Linked DNA regions of Homo sapiens. The protein of the gene in region 1 interacts with the protein of each later gene in a biochemical or structural test. Each region holds a gene or a part of one and is shown on either strand. Other genes may lie near its edges.

The links. The genes of interacting proteins can lie anywhere in the genome.
Region 2: the proteins of UBE2L3 (region 1) and SMURF2 form a complex in vitro, tested with the Homo sapiens proteins (11 studies listed by BioGRID, with this or other methods).
Region 3: the proteins of UBE2L3 (region 1) and WWP2 form a complex in vitro, tested with the Homo sapiens proteins (11 studies listed by BioGRID, with this or other methods).

What each region holds. Positions count from the first base shown.
Region 1 is NC_000022.11:21,605,693-21,612,716, reverse strand, and holds part of UBE2L3 (ubiquitin-conjugating enzyme E2 L3), read right to left. Parts: intron 1,861-7,024; coding exon 1,674-1,860; intron 1-1,673. UniProt on the Homo sapiens protein: Ubiquitin-conjugating enzyme E2 that specifically acts with HECT-type and RBR family E3 ubiquitin-protein ligases.
Region 2 is NC_000017.11:64,547,284-64,554,307, reverse strand, and holds part of SMURF2 (E3 ubiquitin-protein ligase SMURF2), read left to right. Parts: intron 1-2,603; coding exon 2,604-2,724; intron 2,725-6,506; coding exon 6,507-6,708; intron 6,709-7,024. UniProt on the Homo sapiens protein: E3 ubiquitin-protein ligase which accepts ubiquitin from an E2 ubiquitin-conjugating enzyme in the form of a thioester and then directly transfers the ubiquitin to targeted substrates.
Region 3 is NC_000016.10:69,757,524-69,765,355, forward strand, and holds the start of WWP2 (NEDD4-like E3 ubiquitin-protein ligase WWP2), read left to right. Parts: upstream 1-4,808; 5' UTR 4,809-4,868; intron 4,869-7,832. UniProt on the Homo sapiens protein: E3 ubiquitin-protein ligase which accepts ubiquitin from an E2 ubiquitin-conjugating enzyme in the form of a thioester and then directly transfers the ubiquitin to targeted substrates.

The DNA of each region.
Region 1 (7,024 bases):
ATCTGGGATGGCATCACTGCACTCCAGCCTGGGTGACTCCGTCTCAAAAAAAAAAAAAAAAAAAAAAAAAAAAGAAAAGAAAAGAAAAAATCGGCTGGGTGCGGTGGCTTACGCCTGTAATCCCAGCACTTTGGGAGGCCGAGGCGGGCGGATCACGAGGTCAGGAGATCGAGACCATCCTGGCTAACATGGTGAAACCCCGTCTCTACTAAAAATACAAAAAATTAGCCGGGCGTGGTGGCGGGTGCCTGTAGTCCCAGCTACTCGGAAGGCTGAGGCAGGAGAATGGCGCGAACTCGGGAGGCGGAGGTTGCAGTGAGCAGAGATCGCGCCACTGCACTCCAGCCTGGTGACAGAGCGAGACTCCGTTTCCAAAAAAGAAAAGAAAAGAAAAGAAAAAACCAGGCACTGAGAAGAACTGTGTCAAGCTTTTATAAACATCAGCTTGTACACAAACAAGGACCAAGCCCACTAGAGACTGTTCTGCCCTGACTGAATGTTTAGCACCCACTCCTTTCTTCTACTCAGTGTGGGAGTCTAATGGGCACCTTTCATGGTGATTACTTCCAACAAGTGAGGCTTGATTTTTCTTGCGCAAGGCTTTGAACTCCACCTTCCAAGGCTTTTTTCAATCACTAAAACAAGGGACCTCCTCAATCCCTGTGCAGGTCAAAAGTTCAGCTGAGTTATTCCCACAGGGACTGGTGGCACCTCAGCCATACTTTGCGTGCACCTGGTAAGGTAGGAGTTCTCTGGACTCCGTCTGATCTGGCATCAGGAAGGACCCATGAGCCCCTACCCTAGAGCAGCACCCCTAAAAGAAACCCTCCACTTGCAGCCTCTCAAGTGCCAGCTTCATCCACTCTAATCTAAACAGACTTTATACTGGTTTAGGTACTTAAAAGGAAGCCATCAAAATATGAGATTAGGACTTCAAAAGAAAGTCTAGAATTAAATGAAAACCAGACACAGTCCATAACAAACTAGTCACTTCTAGGGGACAAAAGGGAGGACAACCACAATACTGACTCAAATATTCTTCCCAGAAGAATGAGCATGTTTATGTTCACACAGCCACACACAGACATGTGCACCACGCACAGCCACATCCAACTCCAGGGAATCCCAGGCCCACTAAAGCCAACTACGTGCCTTCATCTGGGAATACTGCCCTTACATCTGCCTCTGTCCCTCCCCTCACATCACCCGAGCAACTAGGCTCTAGCCCATGCCCTTCCTATAGCCTGGAAGGCCCTCTCCAACCTCCTTTCCTCCTTCAAGTCTGAGTTCAGGCACTAACTACTGCATGAGGCCACCTTAAATCCCACTCTCCCTTCCCCTTGTAGGCAGCCCCACAGTCCTTCATCCCTTCCAGGGACCAGTGCCTGCACCTCTCTGCACCAGCAGCAAGCCACTGGGCTTGTCTGTCCATGTGTGTTCCCACTGTGGATGGCAGCCCAGGGCTGAGCACTGGAAAGGCCTCCTCAAACCCTATACAGGTCAAAAGTTCAGCTGAGATGAGCCATTCCCACAAGGTCTGACAGGACCTCAGCTACATTTTTCGTGTACCTGAAAGATTCTCTGGATTCTGTCTGATCTGGTACCAGAAGCCCCCACCCCAGAGCAGCACCCCCAAAGACCCCCTCCGAGGAAGACACAGGCACATGTCTTACCTTGGTCGGTTTTGGTTGCTGGCTTCCAGTTTTCGGCACTAATTACTGGCAGACAGACCTGCCCCTTTTCGTCGATGTTTGGGTGATAGATCTTTGTTTTAAATGTGATCTTCGGTGGTTTGAATGGGTACTCTGCTGGAAAGTTGATTTCGATTCTGAAGGCTCCCTTATCATATGGAGGGTTGTCCTGGAAGGAAAGAGAGATCAAAATGAACACACCATGGTTCATAAACCTATGGCCAAGACAGGAATGTTTTAATTGTTTATCTGAAAAATCAATTTATTTCAAGGGATTCAAGTATCAACTGAAGCCCTGCCACCTTCAGGACAACCCAGCCACCCAAAAGTATTTCTAGAGCAAGCTATCTGCTAAACTGAGAAGGGGCTTGAGATTGATGTCCTGGTCTCTTCATACTTTTTTAAAAAATAGACTTTACTTTTTAGAACACCTTTAGGTATACAGCAAAACTGAGAGGAAAGGACAGAGAATTCCTAAATACCCCCTGCCCCTGAACACACACAGCTTTTCCCACTATCAGCATCCCTCACCAGAGGGGCAAATTTGTTACCACCAATGAACCTTTTACCTTAACACATCATTACCACTCAGCTTCCCTAGTTTATGTTAGGGCTCATACTTGGTGTTGCACATTCTATAGGTTTTGTGTGGTTATCAGACATGATAGCTGGAATCATGCAATATGTAGCTGCTATGTCTGAATGTATCTCCCCAAAAATCTTATGTTGAAACCTAATCACCAATGTGATGGTATTAGGAGTTGGGACCATTGGGAAGTGATTAGGTCATGATGGGATTGGTGTCCTTATCAAAGAGGCCCCTGAGAACTGCCTTGCCCTTTCCATCATATAAAGACACAGTGAAAAGGCACCATCTATAAACCATGAAGCCGGCCCTCAGTTGCCACTGAATCTGTTGGCACCTTGATCTTCAGACTTCCCAGCCTCAATAAGTGAGAAATAAATTTGTCGTTAGAAGCTATTTGTTCTTTTTATTATTATTATTTTTTCAGAGTCTGTTGCCCAGGCTAGAATGCAATGGCACGATCTTGGCTCACCGCAACCTCCGCCTCCTGGGTTCAAGCAATTCTCCTGCTTCAGCCTCCCAAGTAGCTGGGATTACAGGCACCCGCCTCAATGCCCAGCTAATTTTTGTATCTTTAGTAGACATGCGGTTTCACCATGTTGGCCAGGCTGGTCTTGAACTCCTGACCTCAAGTGATCTGCCTGCCTCGGCCTCCCAAAATGCAGGGTTTATAAGCGTGAGCCACTGTGCCCAGCCGTTACTTGTTTTTCCCCCACTTCATACTTACTTATTTATTTTTGACAGGGTCTTGCTCTGTTGCCCACTGGATGGTGGCGTGATCTTGGCTCATTGCAACCTTGACTTCACAGGCTCAAGCAATCCTCCCACCTCAGCCTCCCAAGTAGCTGAGACTACAGATAGGCACCACCACCCCCAGCTAATTTTTTTGTATTTTTATAGAGACTGGGTTTTGCTATGTTGTCCAGGTTGGTCTCAAACTCCTGGGCTCAAGAGATCTGCCTGTCTCGGCCTCCCAAAGTACTAGGATTACAGGTGTGAGCCACTGCACCCAGACTCATTTCTTCTTAGTGTTGAATGTCATTTGTCTAGATATACCACAATTTATTTATCCATTAACCCACTGAAGGACATCTTGGTTGCTTTCAAACCTTAGCAATTAATGAATAAAGCTGTTATAAGCATCTGTGTGGATACAAGTTTTCAATTCATTTGGCTAAATACCAAGGAATGTAATTGCTGGATCCAATGGTAAGACATATGTTTAGTTTTGTAAGAAACTGCCGGCCGGGCGCGGTGGCTCACGCCTGTAATCCCAGCACTTTGGGAGGCCAAGGCAGGTGGATCACGAGGTCAGGAGATCGAGACCATCCTGGCTAACACAGTGAAACCCCGTCTCTACTAAAAATACAAAAAAAAATTAGCTGGACGTGGTGGTGGGCGCCTGTAGTCCCAGCTACTCAGGAGGCTGAGGCAGGAGAATGGTGTGAACCTGGGAAGCGGAGCTTGCAGTGAGTGGAGATTGCGCCACTGCAGTCTGGCCTGGACGAAAGAGCGAGACTGAGTCTCAAAAAAAAAACAAAACAAAACTGCCAAACTGGGCCAGGAGCAGTGACTCATGTCTGTAATCTGAGCACTGTGGGAGGCCAGGGAGGGAGGATCACTTGAGGCCGGGAGTTCAAGACCAGTTTGTGAAACATAACAAGACCCCATCTCTACAAAAAAAAAAAAAAAAAAAAATTAAATATATTAGCCTGGGCCAGGCTCAGTGGCTCACACCTGTAATCCCAGCACTTTGGGAGGCTAAGCTGGGTAGATCACTTGAGGTCAGGAGTTCAAGACCAGCCTGGCCAACGTGGTAAAACCCTGTCTCTACTAAAAATACAAAAAAATTAGCAGAGCGTAGTGGTGCACGCCTGTAGTCCAGCTACTTGGGAGGCTGAGGTAGGAGAATTGCTTAAACCCGGGAGGCAGAGATTGCAGTGAACTGAGGTTGCGCCACTACACTCCAGCCTGGGTGACAGAGCAAGATTCCATCTCAAAAAATAATAACAAAATAAATATATTGGCCTGGCATGGTGGCATGTGCCTGTAGTCTCAGCTACTTCAGAGGCTAAGAAGGGTGGACTTCTTAGGCCCAGGAGTTTGAGAATGCAATGAGCTGTGATCACGCTTCTGCACTCCATTTTGGGCAAGAGAGAGACTCAATTTCTTTGTTAAAAAGATTTTATGAATAAATAAATGAAAGAAACCGCCTAACTTGTCTTCCAAGGTGGCTGCACCATTTTGCATTCCCACCAGGAAAGAGCGAGAGTTCCTGTTGCTCTACGTCCTCAGCAGCATTTGGCAGTGTTCTGGATTTTGGTCATTCTAAGAGATGCACGGTGTTATTTATTGTTGTTTTCTTATTATAGAGTTTTAAGTGTTCTTTGTCCTTTAGACAGTCCTTTATCATATTATGTTTTTGCAAATATCTCTTGATCTTTTCTGAAGATACAAGTAGAGTTGTACCAGAGGTAAGTTACAACCCAACCAGAATACACTGTGAGTACTAGAAGTCCAAATAACTGCCTTGATGCCAAGTCCTGGCCAGCTCAATCTTCCCAGGGTAGAAACAGTAGTCAGCTCAATGGCTGGACCCTGGGGACCTGAGCTGGTCACTCAACAGGTGATCACCAGGCAGGGCCAGCACCATGCCCTAGCCCCTTGCCCCTAGAACCACCCGAAAACCACCTTTGGGGCCTGGACACTCTGATGGCCCCAGGAGCCTGAGAGATGACTCAGCAAAGAGTCTTTTGGCCTCTCCCCAACCCTACCTATCTCCAGAGCTGGGGAAGCCCTTCCCATTGTACTCCCTTTTCCCTCACCCAGGTCTGCCATGGCACTTGCCATGGCACACCCAACCCAAAGAAATCCAAGCTTCACAGAGAGCCCAAGAACAATCTTTTTTTTTTTTTTTTTTTTTTTAAGACGGAGTCTCGCTCTGTCGCCCAGGCTGGAGTGCAGTGGCGCGATCTCAGCTCACTGCAACCTCTGCCTCCCTGGTTCATGCAATTCTCCCACCTCAGCCTCCTAAGTAGCTGGGATTACAGGTACCCGCTACCCTGCCCGACTAATTTTTTTTTTTTTGTATTTTTAGTAGAGATGGGGTTTCACCATGTTGGCCAGCCTGGTCTTGAACTCCTGACCTCAGGTGAACTGCCGGCCTCGGCCTCCCAAAGTGTTGGGATTACAGGAGTGAACTACTGCACCTGGCCCCAGGAACAATCTTGACAGCCCTACACCCCAGCCCCATATCTTCAAGCCGTGGCCTAAGTACGCACTCCAGTAAACAGAGCTCCTCTGCTGGGGAGCAAGGCTGGCGTGCGCCAGTTCTCCACATTCTCCTACATCCAAGCCCTGCCCTGGGAGGGGAGGCATGGAGCAAGGGCCTTAAAGGATGGATAAGATGACATAAGGCTGAGGAGTGGAAGAGGCCTCCCAGGCAGAGAGGACTAAAGACTAGATGGCAGGGACTTGGAAGGAATAGCATAGAGCAAGACAGGAGGCTGCGGGCAGGCAGTGTGGCCCCAGGGCTACTGAAGCCACGCGTCCAGGTCTGAATCACCACCGAGCAGCTGAAACCACTGTCAGCATATTCATCTGTGGGGAGTCACCCAGGCTGGAGTGCAGAGGTGCAATCACGGTTCACTGCAGCCTTGACTTCCCGGGCTCTAGCAATCCTCCCACCTCAGCCTCCCAAGTAGCTGGGACTACAGGCATATGCCACCACACTCAGCTATTTTTTTATTTCTTATAGTGATGGCGTCTCACTATGTTGTCCAGGCTGGCCTCAAACTCCTGAGTTCAAGTGATCCTCCCAAAGTGCTGGAGTGCTGGGATTATAGGAGTGATGCACCATACCCAGCCAGCTTTTAGTTTTCAAGAGGAGAATTAAATGGTGGTGGTGGTGGGGGGAAGTAAGTAAACATCATTGTCATTTACACTGCTTGAGCCATGTAAAAATAGCTTTCCCTCACTGGGTGTGGTGGCACACTGGGAGGCTGAGCCAGGAGAATCACTTGAACCTGGGAGGCAGAGGTTGCAGTGAGCCAAGATTGTGCCACTGCACTCCAGCCTGGGCAACAGAGTAAGACACACACACACACACCACACACACACACACATACCACACACACGCGCGCGCGCACACTTTCCTGCATGACTTTTGGTTGGTGAAATCTGCTAAAGGTCTTCACTGATTGTCCAGGACTGACCAACCTCCCCTGTTCCCCACTGTGGGCCAGGTCCTGTCCGAGGAGCTGGGGTGAAGCATGAATGAGGCCATCTGGCCCCAAGTTAGCAGGTCTAGCCTCAGACTTTGCCTCTTCCTAGCTTAAAGAGTCTGAGAATGTTCCTGTACATCTGTAAAATGGGAGTAGCAACAGCCTGTACCCAGAGTTTATGATGAGAGATAAGGACTATAAAGTCCTACATGCCTGACACATGGGCAAAGCTCAAGAGAAGCAGATTTGGCTGGGTGCAGTGGCTCATGCCCGTAATCCCAACACTTTGGGAGGCTAAGGCAGGAGGATCACAAGAGCCCAGGAGGCTGAGGCTGCAGTGAGCCATGATCACACCTCTACACTCTAGCCTGGGTGACAGAATGAGAACCTGTCTCAAAAAAGCCAAAAACAGACTGGGCGCAGTGGCTCATGCCTGTAATCCCAACACTTTGGGAGGCTGAAATGTGCAGATCACTTGAGGCCAGGAGTTTGAGACAAGCCTGGCCAACATGGTGAAACCCCGT
Region 2 (7,024 bases), on another chromosome or scaffold:
GGCCAACATGACTTCTGCTGTCTACTTCTGGTTAAACTGAGACAGCCAGCCCAGTTTCATCATGGAGGAGGAGCTGTACAAATGTGTGAATACCAGGAGATGTGGGCACTGGGGCCACATGTGGTGTAGCTATCACAGGTGGCAATTCAGAAGGGCTTTTGTGCTTTATCTTACTAACACTTAGCCTGTTTATAAATGAGCACATTGTGAGTTTAGGGATAAATGTAAATAAATGTTTTTCAGATTTCATAAAGTAAAAATTGAGGAATTTTTATGTATTGGGCTAATTTGGCTTATGAGAAATAAAAAGTCCTCTAAATATAGAACTATGGTAATCAGTTTTGGGAGTTTGAACTTGAACTTTATGTACACAGAAACTTGCATGATATACTTTCTGTGTATAGATTATGTTCCCAAATCTTACTAAAATGTTTCCTAGTTTAAATATGAGGTCCACTTGATTGGAGTGAACACTGGCATAGCTTTTCTGGAAAGCAGTTTGATACCAGCAGCATGTGCCCTTCAACTAGCAGCTCTGTGTTTAGGGCTCTTCTGCAGAAACACACATGTAACTGAACGAATACGGGGAAAGACGGTCAATTAAATGCTACTTGTGAAAAAAAGTTACACTACTAAAATGGTTTTAGAGAAGAATGATTATATTATACATTCAGCAGAATATTATGTGGATATTTAAAAGTGCATAAGCTGTCAAATTTTAAAAGTAAGTCTTAGAAGAATTATGTAGGAACAAAATCCATGGTTTTTTTTTTGTTTTTTGTTTTGTTTTTTTGGGTTTTTTTGAGGTGGAGTCTCGCTCTGTTGCTCAGGCTGGAGTGCAGTGGCAAGATCTTGGCTCACTGCACCTCTGCCTCCCAGGTTCAAGTGATTCTCCTGCCTCAGCCTCCCGAGTAGCTGGGAGTACAGGTACGCACAACCACACCTGGCAACTTTTTTTTATTATTAGCAGAGATGGGGTTTCACCATATTGGCCAGGCTGGTCTCAAACTCCTGACCTCGTGATCTGCTTGCCTCAGCCTCCCAAAGTGCTGGGATTACAGGTGTAAGCCACCGTGCCTGGCTGTTTTTTTATGATTATACTGAAGATGTTCAGGAGGCTGCAACCAAATAAAGTTTTTGCCTAGGATGAGGGAGTGGAGATGATGCGACTGGAAATAGGAAGGAGAAAGAGGGTAAAAGAATGGACTTTCATATTTTACTGTCTCCATAGTTAATGTTTGATTTTTTTGTTATATACGTAAAAAGTATGTATTACGTTTCTACTTAAAAAAAATGAAAGAACAGGCTGGGTGCAGTGGCTCATGCCTGTATTCCCAGCATTTTGGGAGGCCAAGGTGGGTGGATCACCTGAGGTCAGGAGCTCAAGACCAGCCTAGCCAACATTGTGAAACCTTGTCTCTACTAAAAATACAAAAATTAGCTAAGCGTGTTGGCAGGCACCTGTAATCCCAGCTACTTTGGAGCCCGAGGCAGGAGAACCGCTTGAACCTGGGAGGTGGAGGTTGCAGTGAGCTGAGATCGCACCACTGTATTCCAGCCTGGGTGACAGAACGAGACTCCACCTAATATAAATTAAAAATAATAAAAAAAGAACAAATGAGAATTTCCTAAGTCTTAGCAGTGTCTCCTTTTCAAGACCTCGTGTGTCCTACTCAGTCCCTGGATCCCACTCTTCAGGGTTCAGTCGTGTTTACAGCACGTAATAATCCCTTGCCAACTACAGTTATTAGATTAAAAATTCAAAGAAAAACTTTTACAGTTACACAGTTTTGCTGTCCCCTTAACCCAACAAACAAAAATACGGTCCTCCAAAGGATATAATGTTAAGTAACTTATTTCTTAAAGTAGAGAACCATTTCTCCAAATTTGGAAATGTTAACAAATTTGACAGATGAGTAAGTTCTGTGATGCATGAGATGGAGAAGTTTTCTTGGGTAGATAAATAAAAACAATTCACTTATAAATCGTACATTCACACAATAGATGTAGTTTAGTGCATTTTTTTATTGGTAAAATTACATCTTCCAGAATTTTTATATCCTCTAGAGAACAATGATTATTTAATCAAAAAGTGCTTGCTATTGGCTTTTACTATTTATTCTTCTCATTTTTGGTATGAGGATTCTCTACCTCCTCTTCTCCCGTAGGCCTCCCTCAAATAGAAACAAAACACCCAACACATTCAAATTACATTTGCAAGTAAAATCAGAAAAATAAGTCATTTTTGAGTGAAAGAGCTCTTTATTCTAGTTATTGGCATGTATGCTGTAAGTTTAGAAAGAAATTTCATCAAGACTCAGCTCTAGTAGACGTCCTGTTTCCTGGGAGCTTCTCTGATTTGAAGGGTTGCTCTGCTGATGCTGCTTTTGTTAGTAGTTTACCACTTTTCATCAACATTGAACTGTGTCACACCTCAGGGTTCATTTATCCCCATTAGTCTGAGATTTATTGTTAGACTTGAGGCTAAACCGTTAATGTTAGATGCTTGTAAGATGCGGTGTTGCTAAAGTAGAGATTTATAATAATAATTACCAGATCTGAAAATACATGTGATTATACGAAATCCTGCCGAATGTTTACAGGCTCTATGTGAACTGGAGATTTTTACGAGGCATTGAGGCTCAATTCTTGGCTCTGCAGAAAGGATTTAATGAAGTAATTCCACAACATCTGCTGAAGACATTTGATGAGAAGGAGTTAGAGGTTAGTGCATTAGTATTATAACATCACTAGTGTAACAAGGAAGGATTGGGAATTATTTTGTTACTTAGTTTTAGAGGAAAGCATATTTCTGGTGCTTTCTAAGTTTCATGGTTCTATGCTTGAGAATTCTTATTCACAGGAAAAGTCTTTCATGCTTTTGAAGGCCTTTCATGCTTTGGAATTTCTGTGAGTGAACAATCTGTCTCTCTCTCTCTTTTTTTTTTTCTGAGACAGGGTCTCACTCTGTCACCCAGGCTGGGGTGCAGTGGTGCAATCATGGCTCACTGCAGCCTTGACCTCCTGGGCTCAAATGATCCTTCAGCCCCTCAAGTAGCTGAGACTACAAGCATGCACCAGCACCCCTGGCTAATTTTTTTGTTTTTTTTGGTAGAGACAGGGTTTTGCCATGTTTCCCAGGGTGGTCTCAAACTCCTGAGCTCAAGTGATCCGCCTGCCTTGGCCTCCCAAAGTGCTAGGATTATAGGCTTGAGCCACCATGCCCAGCTGTGAGCAGTCTCTCTTATATTGTGAAAATTTTTAATTTATTTTTCTATCCTGTACTTTCTTGTTTTAAACAGATTTCGTGACTTATATGTACATTCTTCCAATATATGTCTATTCCCTAACTTAGTGGTTACTGATTTAGTTAAGTAAAACCTCATTAATCTACCATTTTGAAATTTATTTGGGTAAGAGCCTACTCTGAATTAGTTTTACACTAAGCTTGCAAGAAAGCATTTGATAGACAAGATCATCGAGAAAATAACTAAAACACCTAGGATAAATTGAATCTAAATGTCTCTCTCTTTTTTTTTTTTTTTTTTTTGGAGACAGAGTTGCCCAGGCTGGAGGGCAGTGGCACTGCAACCTCCACCTCCTGGATTCAAGTGATTCTCCTGCCTCAGCCTCCCAAGTAGCTGGGACTACAGGCACCTGCCACCACGTCCAGCTAATTTTTGTATTTTTAGTAGAAACGGGGTTTCACCATGTTGGCCAGGCTGGCCTGGGACTCCTGACCTCAAATAATCCACCCACCTCGGCCTTCCACAGTGCTGGGATTACAGGTGTGAGCCACCGCACCTGGCCTCTAAATGTCTTTAGATTAACGGCCATACTAAACAGTGAATAGTTTTTTGTTTCCTTTTAAAGCTGGCCCTTAAACACCCCAGGTTTTGTAATTAAGACCTTAAACAAATGCATCTGAATTTCCTACTGAACAACTAAAAAACACGAGGTTTAATTCTATTAAAGGTCCCAAATTTATTTAGTAGTTAGGGATAACACAAATATTTGAAGTCTACTAATAATTTGAAACATGATTTTATTCAATGCCTTCAATGTCCTTTCTAAATAAATCTGTTAATAGACCTGTTAGCAAACAAATCTAAAAAGGTTGGTTTTACTTAATACTCTCCCCATTCCTTTTGTGATTGAATTGTTCATAGTGAAATAGCCAGAAGGAAGTAGTTAGAAGGAGAACATAGCAGGAATGCCGATAAGGTTGAAATATAATGCATTTTCATCTCTTTATACAATAAACGAGGATTTGGCCTTCTAACTGCCATTCCTCTGAAGAAAAGAATTTAGGAGGTGTCTTTTATGTCATTAAATACACCCATAATCCTTTTCGGATAACCTCCTCCCTGTTCAGTGTGGTGTTAATTCAGTGAACCCTGTAGAAGCTTTGTTGGAGATTTTATTTCAGAACCCCATAGAAGCCTTACTGGAGACTTTATTTGGTAGGGTTAGGATTTTTAATATAGTTTCTACTGCTAATGGGTCATGAAACTTTGTTTTTCTTCTCTTTTTTCTTTTTTTTATTTGTGGAGACAGAATCTCACTCTGTCACCCAGGCTGGAGTACAGTGGCACAATCTCCACTTACCGCAACCTCTGCCTCCCAGGTTTTCAAGCGATTCTCGTGCCTCAGCCTCCTGAGTAACTGGGACTTCAGGTGTGCACCACCATGCCTGGCTAATTTTTGTATTTTTAGTAGAGATGGGGTTTCACCATGTTGCCCAGGCCGGTCTTGAACTTTTTAGCTCAGGCAATCCACCTGCCTCTGCTTCCCAAATTGTTAGGATTACAGGCGTGAGCCACTGCACCAGGCCTGAATCATTAAACTTTTTATTTTTATTTTTTGAGATAGAGTCTCACTCTGTTGCCTAGGCTGGAGTGCAGTACCATGATCCTAGCTCACTGTTAACTCTTATGCTGAAGTGATCCTCCTACCTCAGTCTCCCCAGTAACTGGTACTACAGGTGTGCACCACCACGCCTGGCTAACATTATTTTGGCTTTTTTTTTTTTTTTTTTTTTTTTTGGAGACACAGTCTCACTTGTCCCCCAGGCTGATGGGATCTCAGCTCCCTACAACCTCTACTTCCTGGGTTCAAGCGATTCTCATGCCTTACCTGGGATTACAGGTGCCCGCCACCACGCCCGGCTACCTTTTTGTATTTTTAGTAGATACAGGGTTTCGCCATGTTGGCCAGGCTGGTCTTGAACTCCTGACCTCAAGTGATCTGCATGCCTCGTCCTCCCAAAGTGCTAGGATTACAGGCGTGAGCTACCACACCCTACCAATTTTTAAAGACAATATGTATAACATTTATTTTAGCATTGTATATATTAATCCTGGGTGTAATTCTATAAAATACAGGATTTGCAAGTTATGTTTTATAGTATACATGGAATTCACTGCTATAAACAAACATGTTAGATTAGTATGGTGAGTTAGTCTTGAACCCTAGGGAGACATATTAATGATAGTATAAAATGATTTGGATATAGTTCATCTGTGTGACCCTCCATCAGGATGTGTTTAGCAGAGGTCTGTATCAATGTGCTCATGTATTTTGTGCTTTAATATCAATTTAATATTATTAAGCAAATGTAGGCCAGGTGTAGTGGCTCACACCTATAATCCTAGCACTTTGGGAGGCTGAGGCAGGCGGATCACTTGAGGCCAGGAGTTGGAGACCAGCCTGGCCAACATGGCGGAATCTCATCTCTACTAAAAATACAAAAATTAGCTGGGCATTGTGGTGCATGCCTGTAATCCCAGCTACTTGGGAGGCTAAGGCAGGAGAATCACTTGAACCCGGGAGGCAGAGGTTGCAGTGAGCCTAGATCATGCCACTGCACTCCAGCCTAGGAGACAGAGCAAAATTCTGTCTTAAAAAAAAAAAATTATTAAGCAAATTGTATGACTCACTTATTCAACACCCATTTCTGAAGTTTCTGTGCATTATCGGTTGCTTCCCCAGGATGTAGTGAAATGGATGTTACTACCATATTACAGCAGAGGAATTGATTGAATTGCCCTCAATCAACAAAGCTAATAGGTATTGAAACTAGTAGATGATGCAGGTCCAAAGAAGGCACATATCTGTATTTACTCTTTGGGTCTCAATTTCTGTCCATTTTTTTTAAAGCTTTATAATTTTATTATGAACTTATGAAACATTCTCAATTGTTTACCTGGTCAAGTCTATCACAGCTGTGGTTCTCAGACCCTGGAGAGGGAGTTTGCAGTGAGTAGATATCTCTGGAGCTTTTTAAAATATAGATCCCAACTGTCACCCCAGGTGCACAGAATTAACATCTCTGAGCCTAGGACCTGGAATGTCAATTTGAAAAGCTTTTCAGATGATTCTGATGTGCATCTTTAATTAGGAACCACCAAATGACAGCCAGCAGTACAAACCTAAAGTTCTCTTTTGAGGAATTTTTGGTCTGGCTGTGGTTTCCACAGGTTCATTACTGTGTACTATTTTCACAGCTCATTATTTGTGGACTTGGAAAGATAGATGTTAATGACTGGAAGGTAAACACCCGGTTAAAACACTGTACACCAGACAGCAACATTGTCAAATGGTTCTGGAAAGCTGTGGAGTTTTTTGATGAAGAGCGACGAGCAAGATTGCTTCAGTTTGTGACAGGATCCTCTCGAGTGCCTCTGCAGGGCTTCAAAGCATTGCAAGGTAACAGCCTGAGGTGCAGGCAAGCTGGGCAGCGGGTGGGGGCGGGGCTGTCAGCGTGGGGTCTGTGGAGATATTTTGTAAACCATGTGCTTAGAGATTCTCTTTTTCACTTCTTATCTGTGACTCTCACATTGTGATACCTTCTTCTCCCTCCTTTCTTTTGTTCCCTTCCCAAGAGCCTTTTCTGCGGGCTTCTCTGATTGTAGTGAGTGCCGCATGCTAGAGACCGTACGTGGTGATGCTCTGCCTTTGTTTTCTGGTCACCTTACTTTTAATTCTGTTGCACATTCCTGTAGGGAAGTCGTTCACTTCCATG
Region 3 (7,832 bases), on another chromosome or scaffold:
AGCGCACACGCAGCTGCTTTCCACAGAGTGGCATATTGTCCAGCTCCACTTTCGCAATCTCCGCTAGGGTTCGTGTTTCCAAGCGGATAAAGCCAAATCCTTAATCCTTATGAATGAAGACTTCGCCTGCCTTTCCATATTTCTCAAATAGTTTCCTCATTTCTTCCTCAGTGATGTCGGGAGGAAGATTTCCCACAAAAAGACGGCTTCGTTGGGTGAAGGTCTTCTCTCCTGGTTTTCTAAAATTCTTCAGGCCAAATAGTCAAAGCCTTCATTTTGGCTGCTGGCCTGTTGCCCATTTGCAGGTATTGGCGGTGGTGGCGGCTGCAGCTGTTGCTGCTGGTGGTGATGTTGATGATGCTTTCTTGGAGTATGGTTTTGCTTCTCCAAGTTAAAAGTTTTATTACTCTGCATTTTTGCACCCTCAACTTCGATTGAAGACAGCAAAGTGCCTCCCACTTCCCTCTAACCTGGACTTCTCCTCTACCGACTGGTCTCTCCTCGGAGTAACGGCGACGCTACACGGCCTCTCCCGTCCCGAGAAAAGCTTTTTTTTGTTTTGTTTTGTTTTGAGACGGAGTCTTGCTCTGTCGCCCAGTCTGGAGTGCAGTGGCGCGATCTCAACTCACTGCAAGCTCCCCCTCCCGGGTTCACGCCATTCCCCTGCCTCGGCCACCCAAGTAGCTGGGACTACAGGCGCCCGCCACCATGCCCGACTTTTTTTGTATTTTTAGTAGAGACAGGATTTCACCGTATTAGCCAGGATGGTCTCGATCTCCTGACCTCGTGGTCCACCCGCCTCGGCCTCCCAAAGTGCTGGGATTACAGGCGTGAGCCACCGCGCCCGGCCAAGATAGGTACTGTTTTACAGACAAGGGATAGCTAACTAAAGCCACTAGGTGTAGCTGACATGGTCAGTAAGTGGTGAAAATAACGTAACACCCAGACAAACTGATTCAGAGCCACTTTTTTCTCTCTTCTCTTCTTTTTTCTTTCCTTTCCTTTTCTCTCTCTCTCTTTCTTTCTTTCTTTCTTTTTTTTTTTTTTGAGACACGGTCTCTCTCTGTTGCCCAGGCTGGTGTGCAGTGGCATGATCATAGTTCACTGCAACCTTGAACTCCCAGGCTCAAGTGAGCCTCCTACCTCAGCCTCTCGAGTAGCTGGCACCACAGGCCCACACCACCATGCCCAGCTAGTTTTTTCATTTTTACTTTTGTAGAGATGAGAGTCTCATCATGTTGCCCAGGCTGGTCTGAAACTCCCAGGTTCAAGCAGTCCTTTAGCCTTGGCCTCCCAAAGTGCTGGGATTACAGGTGTGAGACACGGTGCTGTCCCTGAGCCACCTAATTATCCATTCTGTTATACTGACTGCTGCTTATGTGCCTTCACTTCATTTTGAGCAACGTGGGGCCAGAGTCTGTCTAATTTGTCTTAATAGTCTCACCCCACCTCCCTAAGCAACACACATAATTTGGTAGCAAATAATTCCTTGCTGAATTGAACAGAAGGTGTATTTAGTGACTTCTACGTTTCCTTGCAAATCTGAAATTTTATGATTATAAGATCCGGTGAATTTTGCTGAATGTCGACTTGGGTCTTCATGCAAACTTTCTTCATGAAGTCTTCACGCCAGCTGGATTCCTCAATTGTCATTTATCTGTCCTACCCCAAAAATCCTTCAGTGCTACTGAATATTGCCTTTCAGCAATTACCCAAATTCAGTCTTTCTCTTTTTTTGGGGTGGCGGGAAGGGGACTGAGTTTTGCTCTCGTCGCCCAGGCTGGAGCACAGTGGTGCGATCTCAGCTCACTGCCACCTCTGCCTCCCAGGTTCAACAATTCTCCTGCCTCAGCCTCCTGTGTAGCTGAGATTATGGGTGCCCGCCACCACGCCTGGCTAATTTTTGTATTTTTAGTACAGATGGGGTTTCACCATATTGGCCAGATGGTCTCGAACTCCTGATGTACGGTGATCCACCTGCCTTGGCCTCCCAAAGTGCTAGAATTACAGGCGTGAGCCATTGCACCTGGCTCAACCTTTCTCACCACTCAGTCTCTTCATTATCTAGAACGTGCCTGTGCTACCTGCCGTAACAGAGTATGGCTGGAGGCTATTTCTCATTTTCTAGTTTATCATATCAATTTTTTTTTTTTGAGACAGAGTCTCACCCTGTCATCCAGGCTGGAGTCCAGTGTGCAATCTTGGCTCACTGCAACCTCCGCCTCCCAGGTTCAAGCGATTCTCAAGCCTCAGGCTCCTGATTAGCTGGGACTACGGGTGTGTGCCACCATGCCCAGCTAATATTTGTATTTTTTGTAGAGATGGGTTTTCACCATGTTGCCCAGTCTGATCTCGAGCCCCTGACAGTCTGATCTGCCCGCCTTGGCCTCCCAAAGTACTGGGATTACAGGTGCCAGCCACCGCACCCTGTCAGATTTTATTCTTTTAATGTGCAGTGTGTGCTCTTTGCTTGTCCCTTCTCCCCTTTGGTGAACACTTACTCAGATGCCACTAAATCTTTTCTGCAGGGTTGTTAAAAAAAAGCAACAAAAGATAAAAAATGAAATATGAAAGAAGAAAACAAACCGAAACCAACAAATGCTAGTAAGTCAAGGAAATAGTCTCTAATTTATCTAGAACAGAATTAGTAAAACTGCCATCAATGGAACTGGAGAAGTTTTAGTTATAGTAGTTTTATAAATGAGACTAATATAGGGTTTAATGTACAAAGACAGGACTGTATCTCCTTGAAAGTTAATCTCTTGGATTTGGAGTGGTACTACAAAAAGTAGAGACTAAGTGTTCAACCTATTTATTTATTTAGATACAGAGTCTCACTCTGTCGCCCAGGCTGGAGTGCAGAGGCGTTATCATGGCTCACTGCCACCTCCGCCTCCCGGGTTCAAGCAATTCTCCTGCCTCAGGTTCTGGAGTACCTGGGATTACCCGCACCCGGACCATGCCCGGCGAATCTTTTTTTTTTTTTTTTTTGTAGTTTTAGTAGAGATGGGGTTTCACCAGGTTGGCCAAGTGGGTTTCGAACTCCCGACCTCAGGTAATCCACCTGCCTCTGCCTCCCAAAGTGCTGGGATTACAGGCGTGAGCCTCCACGCCCCACCAGCCAATTTAATTTGTATGCATGATAGAATCCATCCCAATTCGAAGACCCAAAAATAACAGATTAGTACAAGTCTTTGAGGCTAATTACGTCATTAGTATTAATTTTAATCAATGGTGATTAAACTGAGCCTTCATTCAACTTGTCCAGAACATCAGTCAAGAATGTCTATTTAAAATGTTCTTGGAGGCCGGGCGCATTGGCTCACGCCTATAATCTGAGCACTTTGGGAGGCCAAGGCAGGTGGATCATCTGAGGTTAGGAGTTTGAGACCAGCCTGGCCAACATGGTGAAACCCCATCTCTATTAAAAATACAAAAATTAGCCAGGCATGGTGGTGGGTGCCTGTAGTCCCAGCTACTCAGGAGGCTGAGGAAGGAGAATTGCTTGAACCTGGGAGGCAGAGGTTGCAGTGAGCCAAGATTGAGCCACTGCACTCCTGCCTGGGCTACAAGAGTGAAACTCTGTCTCAAGCAAGCAAATAAATAAATAAATAAATAAATAAATAAAGTTATTGGGCAGGCACAGTGGCATTCGCCTGTAGTCTCAGCTACTTGGGAGGCTGAAGCAAGAGGACTGCTTGAAGCTGGGAGTTCGAGCCCAGCCAAAGCAACCTATCCAGACCCATCTCTTAAAAAAAATATTTCTCTGCCAGGTGCGGTGGTTCATGCCTGTAATCCCAGCACTTTGGGAGGCCAAGGTGGGCGGATCATTTGAAGTCAGGTGTTCGAGACCAGACTGGTCAACATGGAGGAACCCTGTCTCTACTAAAAATGCAAAAATTAGCCAGGCGTGGTGGTGCACGCCTGTAATCCCAGCTACTCGGGAGGCTGAGGCAGGAGAATTGCATGAACCGGCGAGACGGAGGTTGCAGTCAGCTGAGACTGCACCACTGCACTCCAGCCTGGGCGACAGAGCGAGGCTCCATCTCAAAAAAAAAAAAAAAAATATCATCTATCTATCCACCTACCTACCTACCTACCTACCTGGATTATAATTCATTAAGTTCTCTGTGCCCTGTAGTTGTAGATTAAGGGAATGCGATTGGATTAGTGTGGAGGGGCTTTTTATGGAGCCAAGCAGGAGTTTTTAAGCTTTTGTACTTTTGCTTCATGTCACAAGGACAGATGCCCCACAAAGGCTGAGATGTTTGTGGTCCTGGATCTTAGAACAGTGCCTGGCACATAATAGGCATAAGGTTGCCAGGAAATAGAAATACAGATACTCAATTCAATTTGATCTTCAGATAATCAAAAAATACTTTTTTTAGTATAAATATGTCCCATTCTGTATTTGGGACATACATATTACACTGTTGTTTATCTGAAATTCAAATTTAAGTGGGTGTCCTGTACTTTATCTGGCAACCCTACTAAAGGAGCTCAATTAAGTATTTGCTGACTTAACAGTCTGAAGGTCTCGTTTCACCTGTAAAATGGGGCTAGTACCTGTCCCTGCCTCTATAAGGTTGATGGGCAGAGTAGGTGGCATTCAGTGAGCCCTCAATTTATTTGATTGCCTGGGACCATCCGGTGAGCAGAAACCCTTCCACTTTCAACTACAGAGACGATAAAAAGGCCTCCTCGAGGCCAGAGGTGCCCAGGCCAGGCCTAGGTGGCCCGCACCTGCGAGCCTGGCCAGCCTCTTCCGGGTCAGGTGACCGCGCGCGGTCACGTGACCCGGCCCGAGTGCGGGCGGTGGAAGGCGGAAGTAGGAGAGGAGTTCGGCGCCGCTTCTGTGGCCACGGCAGGTAGCGAGCGCTGGCGCGGGGGGCGCGGTGGGCTGGCTGCCTGCACGGGGCGGGCCGGGGGCGGCGGGCGGCGCGGGGTGGGCCGGGGGCGGCGCGGCCCGGGCGTCGGGGGGCGGCGGCTTCCTGTGGGAGGGGCCTGGCGCGGCGGTTCCGGCCTCCGAGGAGGGGTGTCCCGGCTCCCGCCCGAGTGGGGTGGGCGCGCCGCGGCCCGCGCGGGGGTTGCTCCGAAATGGGTGCCCCGGCCGCCAAGGGTGCAGCTGGAGCGAGTCCTCCCGGAAGGGGAGAGGAGCTTAGGTTCCCAGGCATGGAGAGGAGCGATCTTTGTGGAGGGATCGGGACCAGGGGAAGGGGCGACTTGGAACTGAGCTGGAAGGGGGTGCCTGAAAATGGGTTTATGGCGTGGAGCCAGAGGGAAAAAGATGCTGCCTGGACCCCCTCTGAGAGTCTCTCCCTTCCTTCCTGTTTGGAAATGATTGTTACCCGAGACTTTGATGACGGTCCCATTCAGTTTTTAAACTTCAGGAGGGATCACAGAATCTTGATCGTCTTGCTTCCCTCGCGCCCACTTAGTCCTGCGTGGGTAGGGTTTCCACTTCTTGGGAGCCTAGCCCTTCAGCTCATTTTTCTTTGAGATTTTCCCTGAACGGGCCATCATCGAGGCTTTAAAAAACAAAAAAAGAAAATAAATTAAAAAAATAAGTGTGGGCACTTTGCCTGTAAAATGGCTTTTAGCTTACACTGTTGACCTAGCCCAGCGTTACCTCAGCAACATAGTGACTGCTGAAATCTTGGACAGAGAAGTGTCTACCTAGACTGCTTTATGACTTTTCTCTTTCTTCCGTTTAAATTATTCAGTTTCCCTTAGCTTATCTTGTGACTGCTTATCTTGACGAACTGTAACTAGGTAGGGTGCCTGAGAGGTCTGTGTTATGTTCCTTAGAACTGTGACCTGGATCATGATTTTGAGATTGAATACTTGTGTTAAAGCCTGTTCATCTTCCTGTTTCTCATGTTTACTAAAATTTGCAGAAGCAAAAGGAGTTTCATGAGTGCAGTGTAACTGGAACGAATGTTCAAACTGGACATTCACAGCAGCCAGCATCGTTTTGGGTTACAAGTAGGAAAAAGTACTTTCCTAATGTATTATGAGTTCAAGTTTTTGGAGTTATTTGACAAACATTTAAAAATTAGTTTTTGCAGCAGCGCCTATGAGTGAGGTTGGGAAGATGTATTCTCATTTCACAGGGAACAAACAGACTTACGAGAGACGACTTGATTTTTTAAAACAATTTATTGCTCTTTCTTGTTTGCTGGCCTCTTCCTGCTAGATTGCAAATCCTTCAAGGGCAGGTTTCATATTTTATTTGGCTGCTAGCCTAGTGCCTGGCATGTTGTGAGCACTTGATAAATATTTGGTGAATAAATGCATTTCTAAAAGTCACACCGGCGTAAGTGGTGACAAAGGATTTGAACCCAAGTCTTCTACTCTTTTTCTTGTCAGAGAAGCTTGTGATTATCTGTGTCATTGGTCCATATGAAAACAGGCTCGAGAGAAAGGCTTGGATTGGCTTCTCAGTCTCTTTCACTTCATGATTACTTTCCCATTTACAAAGAGCGTATACCAACATCTCACTTAACCTTCCCTTTGAAATTGGGATGGTCAGTATTGTCCCTATATCACATGAAGAGACTGAGGCTTAATGAAGTCCTTACTTTAGATTTCAGAGCTAGTAAATGAGTAGGGACTCAAGCCCAGACCCTTAATCCTTAGATCCATTCTTTTTCATTTATTGACACAATAGAAAATTTTATTTTTATTTTATTTTGAGACAGGATCTTACTCTGTTGCCCAGGCTGGAGTGCAGTGGCACAATCACGGCTCACTGTAACCTTGACCTGCCTGGGCTCGGGTGATCCTCCCATGTCTGCCTCCCAAACAGCTGGGACTACAGGTGGGTGCCACCTCGCCTGGCTAATTTTTGTAGAGACAGGGGTTTTGCTATGTTGCCCGGGCTGTTTTCAAACTCCGGGGCTCAAGCGATCCTCCCACCTCGGCCTCTCAAAGTGTTGCAATTACAGGTGTAAGTCACCATGCCCAACTGAAAGTTTTATTTTTACATAATTTTTCAGGAATAAAAAGTGTAACATTTTAAGGAAAAAGATCACACAGAAAAAGTTGTGAATGTAGAATGTGAGTAAATGAAGTTTAGAAAACGCTGTACTCTACCATAGCTTCCTCTTCCTGGGAAAACATTCTTTCATTCAGTGAATATTTATAAGTACCCACTCTGTCTTTGCCAGGCATTGTTGTAGAGTCCAGTATGGTGTACACTAGCCACATGGGGCTGCTGAGCACTGGAGCTATGCTGTGAGCATAAAATACATTCTGGATTTTGAAGACTTAGCATGAAGAAAAGTAAAATGTCTCATTGATACTTTTTATGTTATAGTAAACGATCATATAATGTATAAACATGTATGATAACATTTTGGATTTATTGGGTTAAATACAACGTAATTATAAATAGTTGGTCAGACATGGTGGCTCATGCCTATAATTCCAGCACTTTGGGAGGTCAAGGTGGATAGATTGCTTGAGCCCAGGAATTTGGGACCAGCCTGGGCAACATGGTGAAACCCTGTCTCTACAAAAAATACAAAAATTAGCCAGGTGCAGTGGCGCCCGCCTGGCTACTCAGGAGGCTGAGGTGGGAGGATCACCCAAGCCTGGGGAGGTGGAGGCTGCAGTGAGTTGTGATCGTGCCACTCATTGCACTCTAGCCTAGGTGACAGAGTGAGACCCTGTCTCAAAAAAAAGAAAAAGAAAAAGAAAAAAAGTTTCACCTTTTTGTCTTTTTTTTTCCCACTTAACCTTGACTTGAAACCCAGCACTTTTTTCTTTTTAAAATGTATTTCCTAGAAAAATAAAAAATTATAAATGTGGCTTGCACTTGTGGCTCCCAT